Linked DNA regions of Homo sapiens: region 2 is linked to region 1. The links come from fine-mapping of genetic effects on gene expression. A gene starts in region 1. The other region holds a variant in brackets. All regions are shown on one strand. Distances are between the middles of the regions. Region 1 holds the start of DUSP3 (dual specificity phosphatase 3). Region 2 overlaps ITGA2B (integrin subunit alpha 2b).

Region 1 (15,704 bases):
ACATGGCCACCATTTTATAAAAGTGCGCAGTGCATTCTTGTGACACACTGAATAGGACTCTGAAAAGTCTCTTCGATGAAATAAAAGCTCTTTAATGCTAGAGAAAGGTCCCCATTTTTAAAGTTTTCATTCTGTGTAACATGGTCTGTTTGGTTCTCCCTCAAGATAACTTCCCTTAAGTACTTCTCTGACTTGGGAAAACCTCACACTAAAACCCAAGAGGAAAGTCAATTTTGACTTTTCAAAACTGAAATGAAGACAAAGAACATTACCTCTTGGAAAAATATTCATTCCAGCAATCCACCTTGGCAGGGCCGCGATGGGCATTTGCGATTTTCTGACACAGTTGCTTGTTTTCATACTCGATTTTGTTGATTTTCTTTTGTTCACCCTGGTAAGAAACCACACCTCACCATGGTGACACCATCAGTGCACTGCCCCAACACACAATGACTTAGTGTTCCCCTCCTCTGAGATCGTGGGAAAGGGGTGCATTGAGGGCCACAGTGGAGACTGGAAGCAGAACTTAAAAGACTGGGCGGCCGGGCACGGTGGCTCACGCCTGTAATCCCAGCACTTTGGGAGGCCGAGGCAGGCGGGAGGTAATGAGACTAAGACCATCCTGGCCAACATGGTGAACCCCTGTCTCTACTAAAAATATGAAAAATTAGCTGGGCATGGTGCCACATGCCTGTAATCCCAGCTACTCTGGAGGCTGAGGCGGGAGAATTGCTTGAATCTGGGAGGCGGAGGTTGCAGTGAGCCGAGATTGTGCACTCCAGCCTAGGCAACAGAGCGAGACTCCGTATCAGGGGGGAAAAAAACGACTGGGGGTGACGCGTGGGGAGGAGGAGTATTAACAAATCTTTGAGTAGATGGGTATTTAGAAGGCTCTGGGAAATTGAACCTCTTTAGGAAACAGACTGGAAGTCAATAAAATACATCTGCACATCTGCAAGCAGCAAGAACAAATACCTGTAGTTTGCTCAATTTTAAAATGTGATTTGTGTGCGCCACTGGAGGTTTGGTATCAACAGTAGGCTTCGCTAGAGAAGGGGGATAAAAGGGAACAATGTTACATCACAGGAATTCCAGTAGCGGCCTCAGAAAACCAGCACTAGACAATGTCCTTGACTAATGAACAATTTCGAATTAGGACCTTAATGCGACTCAAGAAGTTTGGTTTGATTTATCAAATGAACATCTCTGGAGAGTTTTGAGCAGAAACAAAAGAATAGTGAAAATAAAATTTACAGAGATAAATGTCCTTCTAATCCAATGAAAGAGCTTCTCTTCCAATCTTTTTCCAATATTATTAGCCTGTCTATTGGCTTCTGAAGTCTTATCCCCTTTCTAACGTACTTCGGCTTTAAGGAGTTTAAAGGAGTATTTCCATCCAGTGAACTCCCTGGTGGAAGATACATTTTGTTATTGGTGCTAATGCCCTCTTCCCCAAACTCAGCAGATAAGGCCATATCATCCCAAAGCTGTGACCTGGTCTGGTTTCCTGTTGATCTCTTTATGGGGTACCATTCCAAAATCCCTAATAGCAGTGTCCAGCCCAAACTGCCCACATACCTATTTGTATTCTATTCTTGTGAGATACGTAGTGGCCAAAGTCCAGTTTCTTTCTGAAGGTTGTGCTTTGCCTGTGATTAGAGACGATAACAGGGTAGGCCAGATAATCCAGGGAATTGTTCATCTTCTCTTCCTAGTCTCACTTCAGAAATGAGGTACCCAGACTCCTCTGTGAGGTGCCTAGCTGTCCCCATGACAAGCTGTCATAGTTACCCAGTTATGACATCAGGGACAGGTCCCGGGAAGGGAGTAGGAGCAGCAGAGCATGGCTGGCTGCCTCTGGGCTTGTGTTTTTAATGCTAACCTCGGCTCAAGTCAAGATGAAGGTCAAGGAACTCGAAAGCTTTCCCCGCTGCTTAGAATGCAGATGCTGCCAGCCAACACCAGAAGGAAAGAAGTGGTGCACCGGGAGGGGTGGGCAGGCACGGGGTGGGGTGAGGGATACAGAAATTCCAGCCTTGGTTACACATCTTGGGCTATCAGCTAAGTAGTCTCCACTGCAATAGCTCCCCTGAAGGTGCAAGACCACAAGTTTTGGAGGAGGAGAAAGTTGACCCTAATGATAATCGGATCCAATTCCTTTTGCAAATGAGGAAACTGAAGACCACAGCAGCAGCAACGTTACTCAAGAACCAAGTTGGTGGCAGGGCTGGGCTCAGGATGTGGGGTTCCTGAATTCAAGGCCAAATTTGCCCTTTTGCAGGAAGGAAACTGCCAGTTTTTCATGGCAGTAGGGGAGGGCAGCTTTCCTCCAGTACAGAGACTATCTTTTGTACTTAGTGGGAGTTCAGGAAATGCTGAGTGGCTTATGGTGGGCTGGCATCTGCTCCAGGAAGGGCTGCAGGAGTCTGATTTATCTCCACCCCAGCACAGGGTATAGCACCCACTGGGTGCTCAACGCATTTGTTGATGAAGGACTAACACCTATTGAGTGCTCGCCATGCAGTGCTGGGTGCCTTCTTTGAATGTCACATTTAACCCTTCCAGCAACCCTAGAATTAGGTACCATTACTATCCCGCTTTTTTTTTTTTTCCCTGCAAACAGGCTCAGGTTAAGTAATTCCTCAGAATTCCAAACCTGACTGCTTTTAAGCACGACGATGACTCTCAATGAATGTTGAAAGCAGATGCGCCCCAGAGTAGGGCTTCTCAGACTTTGACCGTAGGGACCTCCTGGGGTCCGTAAAATGTCCACTCTGATCCAGCAGGGCTGGGCTGGGGCGGGGATTCTGTCAAGCGCCCGGGTGGTGCCTCCACTGCAGGGAGCCGCTCACGAGCCGAACCCGGCGGTCCCTGTAATCATGAAAGACTGAAGCGACCCCTAGGTGTACCTCCGCCACGAAATGTTTATTGGGCCCTGCATTTAATTCAGGGAAGGAAGTTACCGCGCTTGCCAGTTTACAAAGATACACAAACGGCCTGGACCGGGATGGGGCGAGGACCCCTGAGACTCCAGGGCGGTGGCGTCTTCCCCCCGGGACGCGCCCAGGAGTGGCGCGCGGGGCCCCCGCGTCACGGCGCCCGCGCTCCGCAGCTCCCGGAGCCCGGCGGGCCCGCCCCAGGGGCGGGACGGGGCGGCTCCCGGCGCGAGCCCCCGCCCAGCTGATCCGCCGCTCTCCGCCTCGCTTGCTCCTGCCGGGCGTGCAGGGCCCCGCCGCCGCCATGTCGGGCTCGTTCGAGCTCTCGGTGCAGGATCTCAACGACCTGCTCTCGGACGGCAGCGGCTGCTACAGCCTCCCGAGCCAGCCCTGCAACGAGGTCACCCCGCGGATCTACGTGGGCAACGCGTGAGTCCCTTTCGCGAGCCCGGCCCCGCCGTCCCTCTCGGGACGCCCCGCCCACCCGAGGCTGGGGTCGGGGTGTCGCGAGTCTTGGGTTGGGGGAGCCCGGGCGCGATGGCCCCTCCGGGAGCCACAGCGGGGGCTTGGGAGGGGCCTGGAGTCGACGCCTACCCCCGCGCGTGGGGCCAAGGAACTGGAACCCTGCCTGGCCGGGCGCGGCCCTTCCCCGTGGCGGGGTGCACGGAGCCCGGGTGGCGCCTGCCCGGGTCCCAGCCGCCACCCGCTTGGGGCTTGGCCTTGGGCGGGGTCGGGGCTACCATGTTCACTTAACAGGTGACCCTCGGTCGCCCGGCCGGTCTCCTGCCCGCGCGTCATGTGACAGCTGCCTGGTTCTGCAGTGAGGTCACCGCGGAATGTCTGCCTTCGCCGCCATGGCAACGGGCCGACGTCACAATTCGGGCATGGAATTTTCCCGGCCCGGCAGTCCCGGATCAGGGAACCTAAACACCCCAAATGAGCGAGTCCGGGGAGCTGGGCCGGGATTTCCAGGCCCCCACCTTCCAGATGTGATTTGATTTACAGGAGATTCTAGAACGGTCCAGTGATAACCCCCCTAAGGACCTGAGCCACCACCTAGAAAAGGCTCTTGACCTTTCACCCCCAGGCTCTGTCACCCAGGCTGGAGTGCAATGGCGAGATCTCGGCTCACTGCAACCTCTGCCTCCTGGGTTCAAGCAATTCTCCTGCCTCAGCCTCCCGAGTAGCTGGGATTACAGGCGCCCGCCACCACGCCTGGCTACTTTTTGTATTTTTAGTAGAGACGGGGTTTCACCATATTGGCCAGGCTGGTCTCTTGGCCAGGCTGGTCTCAAACTCCTGACCTCATGATCCGCCCACCTCGGCCTCCAAAAGTGCTGGGATTACAGGCGTGAGCCACCGCACCCGGACAGTAAGAGATTTTTTTTAATTTAAATTTTAAATTTTTTTTCTAGTAAGAATGTCTAATCAGCAGGAAAGAACCAGTGTTAACATTCTGAGATGTGAAATAGGAGCCTCAAGAAAGAATATATTAGCATGCCTGTACAGCCTTGGAAAGCCTCAAGTTGGATTTTCACGATACTCTGAGGACCCAGTTACCAAAATCCTAAGCTTCATGGCTCAGCCCAAGGATGGCATGTTGAAAACTCAAAACTAACCCTCCTCCCATTTTACAGAGGAGGAAATGGTGGCTCAGAGTGTGTGAGGGACTACAAGGACAGGGTCAATGTCTTGTTCATGTATGTATTTCCTGACCTCCGCTATGACCTGCTGTTTAGCCTGCCAAGGACTGCCACGGAAATGGGGGTCATCATGGAACTAGAAGGGGTCCATCAGGCCCCAGCCTCATGGGGACAGTTCTCATCCATTCCATCATTCATTCACCAGTCTGAGCACCTGCTTTATGTCAGGCACTGTACAATGTTCATTCATAGTAGAGATAGTAATAATGATAATTGTAAATTTTTTGAATGTTGAATTATTAATAGTATTAGAGGCCTGGCACGATGGCTCACGCCTGTAATCCCAGCACTTTGGGAGGCCGAGGCGGGTGGGTCACCTGAGGTCAGCAGTTCGAGACCAGCCTGACCAACATGGTGAAACCCTGTCTCTACTAAAAATACAAAAATTAGCTGGGCATGGTGCCTGGCGCCTGTGATCCCAGCTACTCCGGAGGCTGAGGCAGGAGAATCGTTTGAACACGGGAGGTGGAGGTTACAGTGAGCCAAGATCGTACCGTTGCACTCCAACTGGGCAACAAGAGCGAAACTCCATCTCAAAAAAAAAAAGTATTAGAGAAGGGAGATGAATGGGAGTGACTCTTCAAAGTGTTTTTTTCTATCAGCCACTGCTTCACAGTCTTGCGCGGTGTCCTAAGCAGGAATAAACAGAGTCCCACAGTGTCAGCCAAAGGCTTCAGGAATTGGAAAGCTCTAGAGACACCCTTCCTCTTGCACCAAGCAGCAAGCAGGCCTTGTTAGCCTCAGGAATCCCGCTTGCTTGGGCAGGTTGGCCATTCAGCTGTCATCACTTCCCAAGTGGAAACCAAGGTTGTACACGTCTGGTGTAGCCAGAGTGGCAATTGCTGATGGCCACTGTAGAAAATACATCCCTTGCCCTCTAAGCACCTCTGACCTTGACTTGGCCAGGGGTGTGGGGGTTCCTCAACAGGGAGGATCAGTGAGCACCAAGCACCAAGAGGATTTGGGCTCCATTCCCTTAACAAAATCAGGGCCGCAGCCACGTCCTCACAAGGCAGAGCCAGAGCCTGTGTGAGCCACATGTGCCAGGCCTTGGGGGTTTTGCAGCAGATGTGGGCATGAGGGGCAGAGTGAGGTGGAAGATAGAGCAGGGCTGGATGTCGGGAGAAAGGAGGTCTTCTCCCAGATCTGCCACCAGCAGCACACGGGGCCTGTGCCCATCCCTCTGCTCATCCTGTTGGGCCTGAGTTCAAGCTCTGTTAAGCAGGGATATTGCCATCCTTGTTCCTCACAGGGCTGCTCGCAGTGGGCAAGCAAGATCACACAGGAGGTGGCATTTTATAAAGTATAAACTGCTATTTGGACTGGGATGTTTTGTGAGATGAAATAAAGGGGCCTTTTCACCATTCAGACCAATTATTATTTTTATTTTATTTTATTTTATTTTTCGAGACGGAGTCTCACTCTGTCACCCAGGCTAGAGTGCAATAGCACAATCTCAGCACACTGCAACCTCCACCTCCCGGGTTCAAGTGATTCTCCTGTCTCAGCCTCTGTAATCCCAGAGTAGCTGGGATTACAGGCATGTACCACCACACCCGGCTCACTTTTGTATTTTTAGTAGAGACGGGGTTTCACCATGTTGGCCAGGCTGGTCCCGAACTCCTGACAGGTGATCCACCTGCCTCGGCTTCCCAGAGTGCTGGGATTACAGGTGTGAGCCACTGCACCCGACCTTAGATAAATTATTTTGTAACCTCCCATAGTTCTGTTGGGGCCACTTACTCCCCAAGTACTAAATCACCCAAAAGAGCTTTGGAAACGTAGCCAGTGGAATGTGGCAGGTAGGATCCCTCTGGGGGCAGGGAGGGGGCTGCCTGGTACGTGACAAATTTATTCTTTTGCACTCATTCACCGCTTATTTATTCAGCACCTACTATGTAGCAGGTACTATAGCAGATGGTGGGGAAACAGACTTAAAGCAGACATGGTTCCTCTCTCAAGGAGCTCACAGTCTGGATGTCTAAACACAGAAGCACAATCAAGCATTAGAATCATAGTGCTCACTACCGTGTCCAGCTCTGTCAATGGAATAGCCCATTTAATACTCATAACAACCTCAAGGAGAAGGCACTGTTATCCCCATTTTACAGAGAGGGAAACTGAGGCACAGAAAGGTTAAATGGCTTGCTTAAGGTTGCCTGGCTAGTACCTGGGCAGGATGCAGACCCAGTTAGTCTGGTTCCAGAGCCCATCTGTAACCAGTTGGCTATGTACACCCCCACCACAGCTTAGGGAGCATGGGGCCAAATGGAATGGAGGGGAGACAAACACTGCGGAGGGTGTGAAAGATGAGAGGGCGCATTTCTCCAGAGAAGGTGGGAAAGAGCATTCCAGACAGAGGGGACAGCATGGCTATGAAACCACCAGTCTATTTGGGGAAGCTGCTGGCAATTCGATATGGCCAGAGTGAGGGAAGAGGTCATAAGATGAGGCAGGAGAAGCTGGCAGGGGCCAGAGCATGGAGGGTTTCCTTGCTTTGCTAAGAGGCTTAAATCCTTCTCCATCTTCCTCCCCCTGGGGCTGCCATTTGGTTGGTTAATCATCCCCACCACTGTCTCCTGTCCAGGTCTGTGGCTCAGGACATCCCCAAGCTGCAGAAACTAGGCATCACCCATGTGCTGAACGCGGCTGAGGGCAGGTCCTTCATGCACGTCAACACCAATGCCAACTTCTACAAGGACTCCGGCATCACATACCTGGGCATCAAGGCCAACGACACACAGGAGTTCAACCTCAGCGCTTACTTTGAAAGGGCTGCCGACTTCATTGACCAGGCTTTGGCTCAAAAGAATGGTAAGGGACCTCCCACCAGGAAAAGATGGGAGGCAGCTCTGACTGGACTGTCCCTCTGGAAAACAGGCCCACAACAGGTCTCTTCTTAGAAACTCCCTTGTTTCCCATCTTCTGGGGTGAACGACAGAGCTGTAGGTCTCTCTCTGCTCACCTGGCTGGCTGTCAAGTGGCCCCGTGTGTCACAGGATGTGCAACTCATTCACACCATGGCAGCCCCAGGGTCCTCGCGTTTGACTGCACTTTGGCTGGAGGTTGGTTTCCAGTTGCTTACACGTCCCCCATTCAAACAGCTGTAACGATGAGGAAGATGTGTTAATGTGTTAATGTGCATGGCAAGAAGTCCTGAGGTGAAGGAGCATGGGGGCTGGTTGATTAAGGGGCTGCTTGATTCAGCAGCTCCATGGTGGCCTCTGGACCAGGCCCTTTCCCTTTCTCTCTTCTGCCACCTCAGTGTTGGGTGCTCCCGTCATGGTCCCAAGATGGGATCCAGTCACCACATCCAAGCAGGACAAAGTACAGCAGATGAGGCCCTGCAGCCATCTCTTCCCACTCTTTTTTTTCCTCTTCTCTCTCTCCTTTTTTTTTTTTTTTTTTTTTTTTAGATGGAGTTTCACTCTTGTTGCCCAGGCTGAAGAGCAATGGCGCGATCTTGGCTCACCGCAACCTCCACCTCCCAGGTTCAAGCGATTCTCCTGCCTCAGCCTCCCGCCTCAGCCTCCCAAGTAGCTGGGATTACAGGCATGCGCCCCCACGCCTGGCTAATTTTGTATTTTTAGTAGAGATGGGGTTTCACCATGTTGGTCAGGCTGGTCTCCAACTCCTGACCTCAGGTGATCCGCCTCCCTCTGCCTCCCAAAGTGCTGGGATTACAGGCATGAGCCACCGCGCCTGGCCACTCTCTCTCTCTTTTTTAAAGAGACAGGGTCTTGCTATGTTGTCTAGACTGGTCTCCAACTCCTGGGCTCAAGCAGTCCTCTCACCTCAGCCTCCTGAGTAGCTGGGACTACAAGCACGTGCCACCATGCCCAGTCTCTCTCTTTAAGAACAAGTAAAACATTTCCCAGAAATACCCCTCACATCTCATTGGCTAGAGATTCACGTGATTGCCTGGCAAGGAGAAAAGGGGTAGCTGCGGTCAGCTTAGGTTGGCAGTCAGCAAACCACAGCCCCCCTGGCCAAATCTTCCAGCCACTTACGAAACACTTCCTGCAGCCCCCAAATATAAGATAAGACTGAAGGAGAACTACCAAGGCGCTGGCAGTCACCAAGGCATTCCAGCAAGAAACCCTAGAAGGCCACAAAGCAGACATCAGCTGAGCAGGCTGGGCCACTTGCCCTTTCTCCCTTTCTGCTTTTAGCTGTTTCTCTCAGCTCCTCCCTTTACCTCTTCGTCTCTCCCCACCCCAAACCCTCCCAGCGGAGGGGACCCCCATGAGGTGTGAACAGCCTTGGCTGTACTACACTGATGACTCTTGGGCCCAGCAGGCTCACTGTCTGAATGATTTCCAGTAAACAGAATTTTCTAGACCACTGGACAGTGAACGCTCAGGGCTCAGAGAGAAGCTTTACTGTGGAGTATCTGCAGACTTTGCTGACAGGCCCCTCATGGTCCTTCCTGGTCACTGTCACCCCCCAACCCTGCTCACCTCCTCCACTCCAGCTGTACTGAGTTCCTCACCCTGTGTAAACATAGGCTGGGCGAAGGGGAAGGATTTTGTTGTTCTCGTATAATAGCAATTGGTTATTCATTCAGGGAATTTCAAGCTCTCTGACTTTGTTTCCTCTTTCCAAACAACTAGGAACACGCCCTTTTTTTGACCTGTCTCAGTCCAGGTGTGCTGGGTCTTTAGTCTGAAAAGTTCTCTCTGCCTCTCCCTACCCCTTCCTCTGGCAAACTCCACCTTGTCCTTGGCATGGTGTCCTCTCTTCCATGAAGCCTGCCCTCAGGCTGGGTCTACTTTGTTCCTTGTCTGTCTCCTTAGCACCTGATGTAGCATCAGGCACATAGTAGGTACACTGCAAATGATGAATGAGCAAGTGATGAAGAATTCCATGGGCTCTAATGCCAAGTATAAATGCTTCTAAGAATGAGTGGCGAAGTGAGTCAACAGAAACATGCTGGCCTCCAACAGTGTGTGGGGCCCAGGGACCCATCACTGAGAGCTGGGTGGGATGGCTGAGGGTACTCAAGAGGGAGCAGTCACTTCTAGCTGGGAAAACAGCTTCATGGAGGAGGTGGCATCTGGGCTGAGCCTAGAGGAATGGGAGGTTGAACTGGCCCCTTTCCCAGTAGGCTCTGTGTGCACTGGGCATGCAGAGTATGTTCTAGATGGTAAGGTGGCTGCTCTGCAGAGGGTCTCATTCCTAGGGTGGGGCAGGGGAAGCCCCACTCTGAATATTTCGGGCATACAGGCCGGAGGGTGAATGGGCAAGAAAGTGGAGGACTCCTGCTTCCTGATTTGGAAGGCATTGGGAAAATAGAGTGGTGTTTTGGGGGTAGGGTGATAGGAGCAGAAGAGACTCTGTTGGACTCTGGGCTAGCAGATTCCTTGCCAAACAATGGCCTTATAGAGGTGTTAGTAGGTAATAATTCACTCAGCTAGTCAGCAAATATTTATTGAGCACATAGTGTATGCTAGAGATTGTAACGCATCCAAAAATCAATGCCCCACATTTCTTGCCTTTTTTTTTTTTTTTTTTTGAGACGGAGTCTCGCTCTTGTCACCCAGGCTGGAGTACAGTGGCTCAATCTCAGCTCACTGCACCCTCCACCTCCCAGGTTCAAGTGATTCTCCTGCCTCAGCTTTCTGAGTAGCTGGGATTACAGGCATGTGCCACCATGCCCAGCTAATTTTTTGTATTTTTAGTAGAAACGGGGTTTCGCCATGTTGGCCAGGATGGTCTCGAACTCCTGACTTCAGGGGATCCGCCCACCTCGACCTCCCAAAGTGTTGGGATTATAGGTGTGAGCCACCGTGTCCGGCCATTTCTTGCTCTTAAAGAATTCGTCCTCTGGGAGAGAAAAGTCAATCTGCGCATGTCTGGCAATGACACAGGACCAGGGCTGCTGTAGTTGAGGGTGTACTAGGTGCTACCAGAGGATGCCCAGTATTGGGTAACATTTATTGAGTGCACATGGATGCCAGGTGCTAACCTAGAGGATTCATGTGTCCTCTCCTTTAATCTAACCACCTTGTGCAATGGGTACTATTGGCCAGATAAGAAAACTGAGGCACCTTGAGGTTAGGTGGATCATGAGTTAATAACCAGTGTATTGGTCAGGATTCTCTAGAAAAAACAGAACCAATAGAATATACAGTCGGTCCTCCATATCCGTGGGTTCCACATCTGTGGATTCAACTAACCTCAGTCTGAAAAATATTAAAAACAACATAAAAAGATGTTATGTCTGTACTGAACATGTACAGATTTTTTTTCTTGTCATTATTCTCTAGATGATATAATCTAATAAATGTTTACATTGTCTTGGGTATCATAAGTCATCTGGAGATGATTTAAAGTATAGGGGAGGATGTGCTGTGCAGAGGTTATTTGCATATATGATGTCATTTTATAATCAGGGACTTGAGCATCTGTGGATTTGGGTATCGGCAGGAGGTCCTGGAGCCAATCTGCCCTGTGGATATTGAGAGATGGTGTCTATTTATATATATATATATACACACACATACACACACACACACACACACACACACACACATATATATACACGCACACACACACTATATTAAAATAACCCCACCTCTACTAAAAGATACAAAAAAATTAGCTGGGCATGGTGGCATGCGCCTGTAGTCCCAGCTACTCAGGAGGCTGAGGCAGGAGAATTGCTTGAACCCGGGAGGCGGAGGCTGAAGTGAGCCGAGATCGCGCCACTGCACTCCAGCCTGGGCAACAAGAAGGAAACTCCATCTCAAAAAAAAAGAAACAAAACACTACCAGCACCCTGGAAAGCACCCCCAGTCTCTATGCTCCACCACCCCCATCCCCAGCTCCCAGGGCCTCTGCCACGCGGGCTTCTTTTTTTTTTTGAGACAGAGTCTCGCTCTGTCACCCAGGCTGGAGCACAATCTCAGCACAATCTCACCTCACCGCAACCTCTGCCTCCTGGGTTCAAGCAATTCTCTGGCCTCAGCCTCCTGAGTAGCTGGGATTATAGGCTCGCGCCACCACACCCAGCTATTTTTTTGTATCTTTAGTAAAGACGGGATTTCACTATGTTGGCCAGTCTGGTCTCGAACTCCTGACCTTGTGATCCAGTTGCCTTGGCCTCCCAAAGTGCTGGGATTACAGGCGTGAGCCACTGTGCCCAGCCCCTTGCAGGCTTCTGACAGCACAGATGGTTTTGCCCGCTTTCCTACTCTGTGGGCTCATCCACCTCATATGTGTGTGCTGCCTCCGTGTTGCTTCTGCTAAGTGGCAGTCTGGTCATTCTTTGTATTTGTCCTTTCTACTGTGGATGGGCCTTTGGGGGTTTCTAACTGTGGGCCATGATGTGCAGTGTTGCCTGTGAACATTCTGGCCCATGTTCGTGAATGTGAATGCGTATCTCTATTGGACCTGGGCCTGGGAGTGGGATTGCTGGGCCAGAGGGGATGCACGTGTTCAGCTTGAGGAGATACCGCCGTGCCGCACAGCTTTCCAAAGTGGTTGTGCCAATTCACGCCTCACCTCCCCCAGCCACGCAGAAGAGTTCCAGTTGCCCCATATCTTCACCAGCACTTTGGGTTTTCCATCCTTTTCATTTTAGCCATTCTGACAGGCACACAGTGGCGTGACATTGTGCTTTTAAGTGGCACTTCACGGAAGAGTCTTGACCAACGCCATGGTGTGATGGGACGCCCCCAGCTCACCACGTCTCCCCTGTTTCTTACAGGCCGGGTGCTCGTCCACTGCCGGGAAGGTTATAGCCGCTCCCCAACGCTAGTTATCGCCTACCTCATGATGCGGCAGAAGATGGACGTCAAGTCTGCCCTGAGCATCGTGAGGCAGAACCGTGAGATCGGCCCCAACGATGGCTTCCTGGCCCAGCTCTGCCAGCTCAATGACAGACTAGCCAAGGAGGGGAAGTTGAAACCCTAGGGCACCCCCACCACCTCTGCTCGAGAGGTCCGTGGGGGAGGCCGTGGGCAAAGGTGTCCCGAGCTGCCATGTTTAGGAAACACACTGTACCCTGCTCCCAGCATCACAAGGCACTTGTCTACAAGTGTGTCCCAACACAGTCCTGGGCCACTTTCCCCACCCTGGGGAGCACATAAAGAAGCTTGCCAAGGGGGGCGTCCTTGCTCCCCAGTTGTCCTGTTTCTGTAACTTATGATGTCTTTTCCCTGAGATGGGGGCTCAGAGGGGGAAGGCCTGTGGCCTGCATGCTTCCCGATGGCCCACGGCAGGAGGTGTGTGGAAGTGTAAGGCCTAAGATGCTCACAGAGGTCCCTCATGACCTCCCTTCCCCAACTCCCGAATCCTCTCTTGAGTGTGGACCTCAACACCTTGAGCCCTAGTAAAGGAACTATGCAAATGCAGGCCACTCTCCCCACCACGTCTGTGCCCTGCACTGTCCCCACAGCCTTCCACACCCTGTGCATAGGCAGCCCTCTCACGTCTTGAGGTCCGAAGCTGGGGTGGGGGTGTCCGTCAGTTATTAGTGGATGGAGATTCCCACAGCAAGGCTGCATTTGAATGATTTCCTTAGGATGAATGGTCCCTACACAAAGAGGCCTTGTGGGCAAACCTGGAGAACCCTCCTAAATCCATAGAGTTTTCAAAATGTGAATCTTTGGAAGCCTTGAGTTCAGAATCTGCTGCTCTGGAATATTTCCCTTCGATCTTATCTCAGTCACTTCGTTTTTGAGAAGAGTGATGCCTTGGGCATGCTTTTTTTTTTTTCTTTTTTAGAAAACAGGGAGTTGAAGTCCAACCTATTTAAAAACCCCACCATTTGGAGAATTACAAGGGTTTTGTCCTGAATTGTAGTGTTGGCAAGCCCAAGCCACTCGTGCTAACTGCTTTTTGTCTCGGTTGCTATTCCAAGAACAGAAGGAGGAAGTTGGCCAATTACAGCGTGTGTGCATGGATGTGTGTGGGGGGCGTGCCTCTCAGAAACGCGGCCAGAAGACAAGCAGGGAAGTGAAAGGTCCCAGGCACACACCCTGCCCATTGCAGGTGGCTCTTACAGCTCTCTGGTGCCAGCACGGGATCCCTGAAGTGACTCAGCCAGGCAGACATGAGACATGGCGGAGTGTCCAAATGGATCCTTTATTGGTGGTAGAGCAAAAAAACCCAAACACGATAAACCTTTCAAAAGACTTTCTAAGGATGATATTGGAATGCACCAGCCCTCACATGTGTATGCACATTTGCCAGAATATAAGAGTTTTGTTTTAAATACAGTCTTGTTAGGATTTTACGTTATTGTTATTATGGAAAGTGATTGTGATGCTATTTATCTTCAGGGTCACTCTGGGCAAAGAGAAGGTCCTCAGCCATGCCCCCAGCACCTTGCACATAGGTGTCTGATAAAAGTTTAAGAAAGTAAACACTTTTTGAGCACCAAATATATATAGGGCATTGTTCTGGTGGGTGTGTCACGCTCCCAGAAGACTGAATTCATGGTAGGATCACTCGCAAGGCCTTGTGAAGGAGTCTTACCTAAAACGAAAGAAATATCAGGGACTTTTGTTGACTATTTACAACTCAGTTTTACATTTAAATTCAGGCAGTGTTAATATGCCAAGGTAGGGAATGTGCCTTTTTCAGAGTTGGCCAGGAGCTCCTGGCTGGGACACGGAGAGGCAGGTGTGGCGTAAGGCCTCACTCCCGGCTGGGAAGGTCTCTGATCACACAGAAGCAGCCCTGCCCAGCCTGGTCATTTGCTGTCCGCTTTTCTCTGTGACCACAGCAGCCCTGAACAACCAGTATGTGTCTTCTTCTCCAGATAGTGAAAAAGGTGTCCAGATAAACCCACCTAAGTGAAATGGCCATCCTCTAAACTGGGTACCTCACTGCACAGCTTCTAGGTAGCCTTCCAACTTAATCTAACTTGAGCCTCACAGTAACCCTGTAAAGTTAGTAGAGCTTGTTCTTGTATTGTGACCTTTTTTAAAAAAAAGGAACTGAGGTTCAGAATGATTAAGGGCCTGGCCCCCAGGGTTGTCCAGCTCCATAAGGTGGAGCTGGGCAAGATTTTGGGTTTGCTGCTCCCTGAAGCTGGATTCTTTCATACGATACTCTTTCTCAAGAAGGGGGCTCCCTGGGATCTCCAGGTGTACTGCACTTACCCTCAATCCAGCCCCGGAGAAGCAAGTGAAAAGGGTGGGTCCCTCATAGGCTAGAATGTGCAGCTCTTTCTCCAGGTGGGATGTAGCACCCCGAAGTAGAGCTTTCTGCTCTGCTCCTGGAAAAGGCTAGGGAGCTGGGGCTGGGGCTCCCCTCCCATGACCAGGCAGTGGTCACCCCATGGGACAGGCACAGCTACTTACGCGAACACAGCAGGTTGGTGTGGCTGGCTAACTAGGACCTCTCGAAAGTCTCTGTGGGGGCATGAGGGAGAAAAGGCCATTGGGAGAATTACTGCCTTTACTTTGGGACTACTTTTATGCTGATAACTTGGGATTTCTTGATAGTCCTTCACCCCTGAAACCCCGTATTTACTTAACAAGATTTAGCTCTTAGTTCTTCAAGTAAAATTAAAGTCTCTTGTGTAAGAGCCAACACATGCCCAGCTGCGGATGGGAGCTGTTCCTGGACAGCCTTCTACTGCCTGGGAAGTGATGGAACAGGAACTCAGGGTGCCCTTACCCCCTCCCCAGACCTGTTCCCTTTCTTTGACTGACAGAGCACCATCCAGGCAAAATTAGAGCGCCAAATGGTTTTCTTCTCAATCTTAAAGCAGTATACCTTTCCACAGGCTCGTCTGTGTCCCTGCCACTCTGAGTTATCCAGAAACCACCACCTACAAATGAGGGGACTCATCTAGAAGACCTCTAAGGTCCCCTTTTGGCTCTGAGGGGTCTCTAATAATCCCCACTTGGAATTCAGCACCGCAAGGAAATTATGGGTATGTGAGCCATAATATGATGGGCAGCAGGTGGCGCTGCCTTCCACCCATGGTGATGGATGGTTTGGAAAGGGAATGTTGGTGCCTTTTGTGCCACAAGTTAAGATGCTACTGTTTTAAAGGAAAAAAAAAAAAAAAAGTACTGATCTTCAATATGAAGACATGAGCTTTTCT
Region 2 (8,000 bases), 610 kb before region 1:
TTTGGATTCCTACTACCAGAGGCTGCATCGGCTGCGCGGAGAGCAGGTGGGGGCCAGGTCCCAGTGGGCGTGGCTGGGTGGAGGGGGAACTGAGACTTCAGAATATTTCATGGGAGGTGAGGGCCCATTTCTTAAAGAGGATGCTTGTCCAGCGGCGTGAATGATGGTGCTCCTCATCTTGCAGATGGCGTCGTATTTTGGGCATTCAGTGGCTGTCACTGACGTCAACGGGGATGGGTGAGGAGGGACATGCCCCACCCCTACCCAGTTGGGTCCCAAATTACCAGAGCTGCCCTCTGTCTCCCTTTCCTAGCCCTAGTCTCACGTATCCACTGGAGGAACAGGAGAGCAAGGGTCGAGGAGATTTGGCCCTAGCCCCAATATACCCCTGGTCCAGTCCCATGTAACCACTCATCTGGCCCACAGGAGGCATGATCTGCTGGTGGGCGCTCCACTGTATATGGAGAGCCGGGCAGACCGAAAACTGGCCGAAGTGGGGCGTGTGTATTTGTTCCTGCAGCCGCGAGGCCCCCACGCGCTGGGTGCCCCCAGCCTCCTGCTGACTGGCACACAGCTCTATGGGCGATTCGGCTCTGCCATCGCACCCCTGGGCGACCTCGACCGGGATGGCTACAATGGTGAGGGAAGAGAGGAGCCCTACTTGCTGCAGAGGGGTTAACAGCCACTCAAAAAGCATGGAGTTGGCCTGAGGGCAGCCAGAACCAGGATGGGTTTTAAGCATATAAGTATGTGGCTTAGACACATGGGGTGCTGAGTGGAGAGCAGATGGGAGAGTTGAAGACTAATTAGGAAGTGTTTGCCTTAATCCAAGCAAGAGACAATGACCACCTGGATGTGGATTTTGGCAGTGGAGTTAGAGATGGGAGTGACTTCACAGATATTTAGGACTCGGATTATTAGGACTTGGTGGGAGACTGGATGTGGGGCCAGGGGAGAGGTTGGAGTTGGGTGCCTGTGATGGCCTCCACTGCCTGGAACTCAGGCCGTGCAGCAGGTGCTGGGGAGAGGCGGGAGATCAGCAGTTCAGCTCTGGACCTGTTGAGCTTGAAGGGCTTGGGTGCTTTAGGCGGAAATATCCAAAGAACAGTTGGGAGTGGCTCTCCCCGCTTCCACAAGAGAGATCTGAATGGGAGACAGGGGTTTGGGGAAAGTGGATGAGGTCCCGGGACCTGTGAAATAAGAGGCCCAGGATAGAGCCCTAGGGAGCAAAAGCATTTAGGTGACTCCTACAGGAGGTAAGTCTGAGAAGGAGACAGAGGAGTGTCCAGAGAGGGAGGAGGGAACCCAGGGGGTCTGATGGCCCGGGACTCAAGGAAGAGCATGCGTTAAAGAGCATGCACAGGAGGAAGTGGGCGCTGCAGCTCCTGCTGCTGCTGCAAGATACAATTAGGTGGGGCTGGAGAAATATTCATGGGCTTTAGCAAGAAGAGGGTGCCAGGCATGGTGGCTCATACCTGTAATCCCAGCTACTTGGGAAATTGAAGCAGGAGAATCTCTTGAACCCGGGAAGTGGAGGTTGCACTGAGCTGAGCTTGCGCCACTACTGCACTCCAGCCTGGGTGACAGAGCAAGACTCCATCTCAACAAAATAAAAAAAAAAATAGAGAAAGAAAGGAAGAAAGAAAAAAGAAGGGGAGGTTATTGGTGACAGTGACATAAATTGATTCAGGCCAAGATAGGGTCAGAAGCCAGAATGCAATGGGGTAAGGTATGAATGGAGATGAAAAATTGGATGCAGCTAATGTAGACAGCTCTTTCAACAGGTTTGTGGTAAAAAGGAATTTGAGGAATAGAAAGGAAAAAAAAAAACATGTTTGACTATAAGAGGAAAAAGAGAAAAGGTGATCACAGAAAAGAGATGAGGGTCAAGGGAAGATTATTTCAATGTGGAAGAACATGTAGTAGGTTGAAAATGATGTTGTGGGGAAATGGGGGGATGAGCCAGCAGAGAGTCCCTGTGATGCCTCAGGGGGTGGGAGGGTGACTGGCCCAGTGTCAGGGTGAAGGAAGGAAACCTCTTCCAGGGTCAAATGGGGAAAGGGAAAAGAAAGTTGGTGTGGGATTATAGCATAACAGTGGGCTGCCTCTCTTCCTGAAGTAAGAGATTACGTCACCTGCTGAAGGAAGTGTGGGGGGTCTGGGAGTTTGATGGAATGGAGAAGGCTAGAAATAGATGCTAGATGGCCAGGCACGGTGGCTCACACCTGGAATCCCAGCACTTTGGGAGGCCGAGGCAGGAGGATCACTGGAGCCTAGGAGTTTGACACCAGCCTGGCCAACATAGGGAGATCTCGTCTCCATAAAAATTTTTAAAAATTAGCTGGGCATGGTGGCTATAGTCTCAACTGCTTGGGAAGCTGAGGTGGGAGGATTGCTTTAGTCCAGAAGGTTGAGGCTGCAGTAAGCCATGGTTGCACCACTGCACTTCAGCCTGAATGACAGTGCAAGACTGTCTTAAAAATAAAAAAATTTTAAAAGGGGCTTGGGCACGGTGGCTCACACCTGTAATCCCAGCACTTTGGGAGCCCAAGGTGGGCAGATCACTTGAGGTCAGGAGTTCGAGATCAGCCTGGCCAATGTGGTGAAACCCCGTCTCTACTGAAAATACAAAAATTAGCCGGGCATGGTGGTAGGCGCCTGTAATCCCAGCTACTGAAGAGGCTGAGGCACAAGAATCACTTTAACGGGGGAGGCAGAGGTTGCAGTGAGCCGAGATCGCACCACTGCACTCCAGCCAGGACAACAGAGCGAGACTCCATCTCAAAAAAAAAAAAATTTAGAAAAGGGAATAATGATGCTTAATTTTCAGGATATATTTTCCTCAATAGACAGTGAGAGTTGTCACTGTTTTTATAACAATCCTACTTGGCAGGTCCCTCTCCCACCTGATTGTTAACTCCTGGAGGGTAGGGCAGTGCCTCCTTCACCCACACTTTGCACCCCTTTCCTAGTCTCCTGGGATGTTCCCAGAGAAGCTCAGGAAAGTTTTACAGTCATCTAGGGAGGCTGAATAACAATCAGCCACTTCCTTTCTGTTACTCCTTCCAGACATTGCAGTGGCTGCCCCCTACGGGGGTCCCAGTGGCCGGGGCCAAGTGCTGGTGTTCCTGGGTCAGAGTGAGGGGCTGAGGTCACGTCCCTCCCAGGTCCTGGACAGCCCCTTCCCCACAGGCTCTGCCTTTGGCTTCTCCCTTCGAGGTGCCGTAGACATCGATGACAACGGATACCCAGGTGCCCTGGACTGCCTCCAGCTAGAAATGCCCAAGAAAGGCCCTTGGACATTCGCTGGAAGTGCCAAGAGACACGGCCAGGGGCTCATGCCTGGCCTGGTGTCCCACTATGGACTGCCAGAGGGGCTGGGTGAAACCTCCAGTGGGGGAGGTGGTGTGGGGAACCCCTGGGAAGATGAGATGAGGATCCCATGCCCTAATCGCCAATTCTGACCCATTCCTCGATGTCTATAGACCTGATCGTGGGAGCTTACGGGGCCAACCAGGTGGCTGTGTACAGGTGAGCACTGGCTCCAGGGGCGGGATGGGGAAGGTCCTGTGCCATCAAGAGGAGGCCAGGCCAGGAGGAGCCACAATGGCAAGCCTACCCCATCACCCTATCCCATCAGAGCTCAGCCAGTGGTGAAGGCCTCTGTCCAGCTACTGGTGCAAGATTCACTGAATCCTGCTGTGAAGAGCTGTGTCCTACCTCAGACCAAGACACCCGTGAGCTGGTGAGGAGGCAGAGGGCATGGGCCTTAAAGGATCTGGGACCTCAGAAAGGCTCCAACCCCTGAGCCCCACTTACGTCTTTGCAGCTTCAACATCCAGATGTGTGTTGGAGCCACTGGGCACAACATTCCTCAGAAGCTATGTGAGTGGCATGAAGGGGGCAGGAGGGAGGTGGGCTTGGACTCCCCCGGAGGCTGGCCAGGGAGGTCCTGACTCTTCTGCTTGCCCTGCCAGCCCTAAATGCCGAGCTGCAGCTGGACCGGCAGAAGCCCCGCCAGGGCCGGCGGGTGCTGCTGCTGGGCTCTCAACAGGCAGGCACCACCCTGAACCTGGATCTGGGCGGAAAGCACAGCCCCATCTGCCACACCACCATGGCCTTCCTTCGAGTACGCCCAGGCAGGGGATTGGCAGGGCTGGGAGAGTAGAACTTACCCACTGGACTTGTTCATCTAGCCCTGGGGCACTGAGCTGGGTGCTGTGAGTCCGGGGGTGGTCAGGACACGGTGCCTACTGGCCAGGAGAAGGTGGGATGTGTATGGTAGCAAGATGGCCTGACTCTTGCCCCTGTCCTAGGATGAGGCAGACTTCCGGGACAAGCTGAGCCCCATTGTGCTCAGCCTCAATGTGTCCCTACC[G/A]CCCACGGAGGCTGGAATGGCCCCTGCTGTCGTGCTGCATGGAGACACCCATGTGCAGGAGCAGGTAGGGACAGGCAGGGACAGGCCAGGGAGGTGCAGGACCCCTGATAGCAAATCAGGATTAGGGTTAGTGCCAAGTCACAATGTGAACCCCAAAACCTTGATGTCATTCCAAACCCTAATGAAAACCTCAAAATCCAGCCAGTCATGGTGGCTCACACCTGTAATCCCAGCACTTTGGGAGACCGAGGCAGGCAGATTGCCTGAGGTCAGGAGTTAGAGACCAACCTGGCCAACATGGTGAAAACCCATCTCTACTAAAAATACAAAAAAAATTAGCCGGGTGTGGTGACGCATGCCTGTAATTCCAGCTACTCGGGAGGCTGAAGCAGGAGAATCACTTGAACCCAGGAGGCAGAGGTTGCAGTGAGCCAAGAGTGTGCCACAGCACTCCAGCCTGGGTGACAGAGCAAGACTCTGTCTCAAAAAAAAAAAAAAAAGCCAGGCGCAGTGGCTCACGCCTGTAATCCCAGCACTTTGGGAGGCCAAGGCGGGTGGATCACGAGGTCAGGAGATCAAGACCATCCTGGCTAACACAGTGAAACCCCGTCTACTAAAAATACAAAAAAAAAAAAAAAATTAGCTGGGCGTGGTGGCGGGTACCTGTAGTCCCAGCTACTTGGGAGGCTGAGGCAGGAGAATGGCGTGAACCCCGGGGGGCGGAGCTTGCAGTGAGCCGAGATAGTGCCACTGCACTCCAGCCTGGACGACAGAGCGAGACTCCGTCTCCAAAAATAAAATAAACACCTGAAAATCCCAGTATCCCCTAAGCTCTGATGTAAATTGACAAACCCTGACATTGTCCCAAACCTCCAAATAAACCCGAGCCCCGATACCATCTACAAACTCCTTTTCGTCCTCAGATCTTCTTACTCCCTAAGCCCCTATGTGAACCCCAAGCCCACTGTTTTCCTAACCCTGATGTAATCCCTAAACCTCACACATCCCCAACTTACCCGCACACCCCAATGTGCCCCTCTAGACACGAATCGTCCTGGACTGTGGGGAAGATGACGTATGTGTGCCCCAGCTTCAGCTCACTGCCAGCGTGTGAGGAGGCCTCCCATTCTGCCCGACCCTGGCCCTTTCTGCCTATCATACCTGCTCCACACCTTAGTCCCCTCTTTTCCCACATCCTGGGCCCAGACCCAGGCTCCCTGGCTTCACTCCTCTTTCCCCACAGGACGGGCTCCCCGCTCCTAGTTGGGGCAGATAATGTCCTGGAGCTGCAGATGGACGCAGCCAACGAGGGCGAGGGGGCCTATGAAGCAGAGCTGGCCGTGCACCTGCCCCAGGGCGCCCACTACATGCGGGCCCTAAGCAATGTCGAGGTATGGCCCCCACCCTGGGAACAGTACCCGGGACCTGGGAGGCACTGGAGCCTTGGCTCTCTCATCTCCCTCCCTGAGAGTCCCTCTTCTCTTCTGCTTTGCTGTCAAAGATGTAATTTTTTATTTTTTTTTTAATTTGGAGGAGGAATACTTGCTAATGGCACAGAATTCCAAAACTCTATTACAAAAACCAGAAAAACAAAAAAGGTTTAGGAACCAAATGTTAACAGGAACCTCTGTTAACATTTGGTGGATTTCCTTCCAGTCTTTTTTTCAATATTGACTCACACTCACATAAGTATATATTTATTTTTTATGTTGTTAATATAGTTTATAATAATGGGGGTCATACTCTAATGTTTTGTGTTTTTTATTTCCAAAATGAAAATGCCTAAAAAGTAGTAGTGCTACAGCAATACACACACTAGCATGTGACAGTCCCTTGAGACCCCACCCCAAGAAACCCCCCCCTCCCTACCTTGGCACACAAATCTTTCCAGACCTTCCAAGGGAGCTTAAATATATATATATGATGCTCTGTAATTTCTTTCTTGGAACTGCCTTCCTGAAGGGCTTTGAGAGACTCATCTGTAATCAGAAGAAGGAGAATGAGACCAGGGTGGTGCTGTGTGAGCTGGGCAACCCCATGAAGAAGAACGCCCAGGTGAGGCTGCTGGGTCGTGGTACCGGGTCTCCACCAGGGGCTCATGAATAACCAGATTTTAGGGGTGAGGTTTTAGAGCCACATAGTTCTGGGCCAGAATCTTGGTCCTCACACTCCCTTGCCACATGTCCTTGGGTGAGTGACTTTCCCTCTCTGAGCCCCTTTACCCAGTGGGCTTCCAGGTAAAATAGAAATAATAATGGTGGCCTGGTGCGGTGGCTCACGCCTGTAATCCCAGCACTCTGGGAGGCCGAGACGGGTGGATCACGAGGTCAGGAGTTCAAGACCAGCCTGGCCAACATAGCAAAACCCCGTCTCTACTAAAAATACAAAAATTACCCGGGCATGGTGGCGCACGCCTATAGTCAGAGCTACTCGGGAGGTTGAGGCAGAAAAATCACTTGAACCTGGGAGGTGGAGGTTGCAGTGAGCCGAGATCATGCCACTGCACTCCAGCCTGGGTGACAGAGTGAGACTCCGTCTCGGAAAAAAAAAAAAAGAAAAAGAATAGTGGTGATCTTGGAGGGTGAAGACTGGAGGCCACATTCAGGGCAGGGCTGTCCTAAGTGGGGCACTTGGGCAGTGACCTTGGCCCTCCTCATCTCCCAGATAGGAATCGCGATGTTGGTGAGCGTGGGGAATCTGGAAGAGGCTGGGGAGTCTGTGTCCTTCCAGCTGCAGATACGGAGGTACTGACCTGGCGAGCGTGCCTACCCACCACCCTTCCCCCGTCTGACCCCCGTGCAGAGCCCCTCAGGTCCCTTCCATACAGAAGGGTCTTTCGAGGCCAGGCGCAGTGGCTCACACCTGTAATCCCAGCACGTTGCGAGGCCAAGGCAGAAGGATCACTGGAGGTCAGGAGTTGGAGACCAGCCTGGCCAACATGGTGAAACCCCATCTCTACTAAAAATATAAAAATTAGCTGGGCATGGTGGTGCGCACCTACAATCCCAGCTACTCGGGAGGCTGAGGCAGGAGAATAGCTTGAACCGAACCTGGGAGGTGGAGGTTGCAGTGAGCTGAGATTGGGCCACTGCACTCCAGCCTTCCAGCCTGGGCGACAGTGCGAGATTCTATCTCAAAAGAAAAAAAAAAAGGTCTTTGAAGAAGCCTGGTTCCCTTTCTTCCTCAGAGATTTATGTCTGAGTCTTGGAGCCCTAGAGGAAGTTCTTTCCCAGGTCTAACTTCAGTGTGGCATGCTCTTTGTATAATTAGCTCTCTCTGAACTCTCTAAAATTCTGGCCTCACCCCCAGAAAGTCACTGGGCTGGTGTCCCTGGCCCTGTTTCTCCTCATCCCCTCCCCTCTAGCAAGAACAGCCAGAATCCAAACAGCAAGATTGTGCTGCTGGACGTGCCGGTCCGGGCAGAGGCCCAAGTGGAGCTGCGAGGGTGAGAGGCCAGGGGTGGAGAAGGGAGATGGCATTCAGGGCTCTAAACTCCAGGGGGCGCTGGGGAAACCTCACAGGCCAATCAGGGCATCACACTCTCTCTGGGGGTCTTGGGCACCTGCAGGAACTCCTTTCCAGCCTCCCTGGTGGTGGCAGCAGAAGAAGGTGAGAGGGAGCA

The links.
Region 2: its variant is fine-mapped to the expression of DUSP3 in whole blood (INTERVAL, PIP 0.95).

What each region holds. Positions count from the first base shown.
Region 1 is chr17:43,766,461-43,782,164 of GRCh38, reverse strand. It overlaps DUSP3 (dual specificity phosphatase 3), which reads left to right and starts at 3,188. Exons shown (of 3, transcript NM_004090.4): 1 at 3,188-3,365; 2 at 7,227-7,453; 3 at 12,351-15,704. The coding sequence starts at 3,241. The coding sequence ends at 12,556. CFAP97D1 (CFAP97 domain containing 1) reads right to left here and starts at 1,730. Exons shown (of 6, transcript NM_001136483.3): 1 at 1,579-1,730; 2 at 976-1,046; 3 at 273-391. The coding sequence starts at 1,702. RefSeq lists a silencer at 3,008-3,697 and an enhancer at 3,630-3,924.
Region 2 is chr17:44,376,131-44,384,130 of GRCh38, reverse strand. ITGA2B (integrin subunit alpha 2b) reads left to right here. Exons shown (of 30, transcript NM_000419.5): 10 at 1-46; 11 at 185-237; 12 at 427-638; 13 at 3,070-3,252; 14 at 3,486-3,531; 15 at 3,641-3,745; 16 at 3,830-3,885; 17 at 3,978-4,129; 18 at 4,317-4,442; 19 at 5,421-5,488; 20 at 5,622-5,769; 21 at 6,341-6,433; 22 at 7,043-7,122; 23 at 7,743-7,823; 1 more. Among named protein-coding and RNA genes, the nearest start is that of ITGA2B, 9.5 kb to the left of the region's middle. RefSeq lists an enhancer at 3,718-4,674. The variant G/A (reference allele first, on the strand shown) is at 4,379.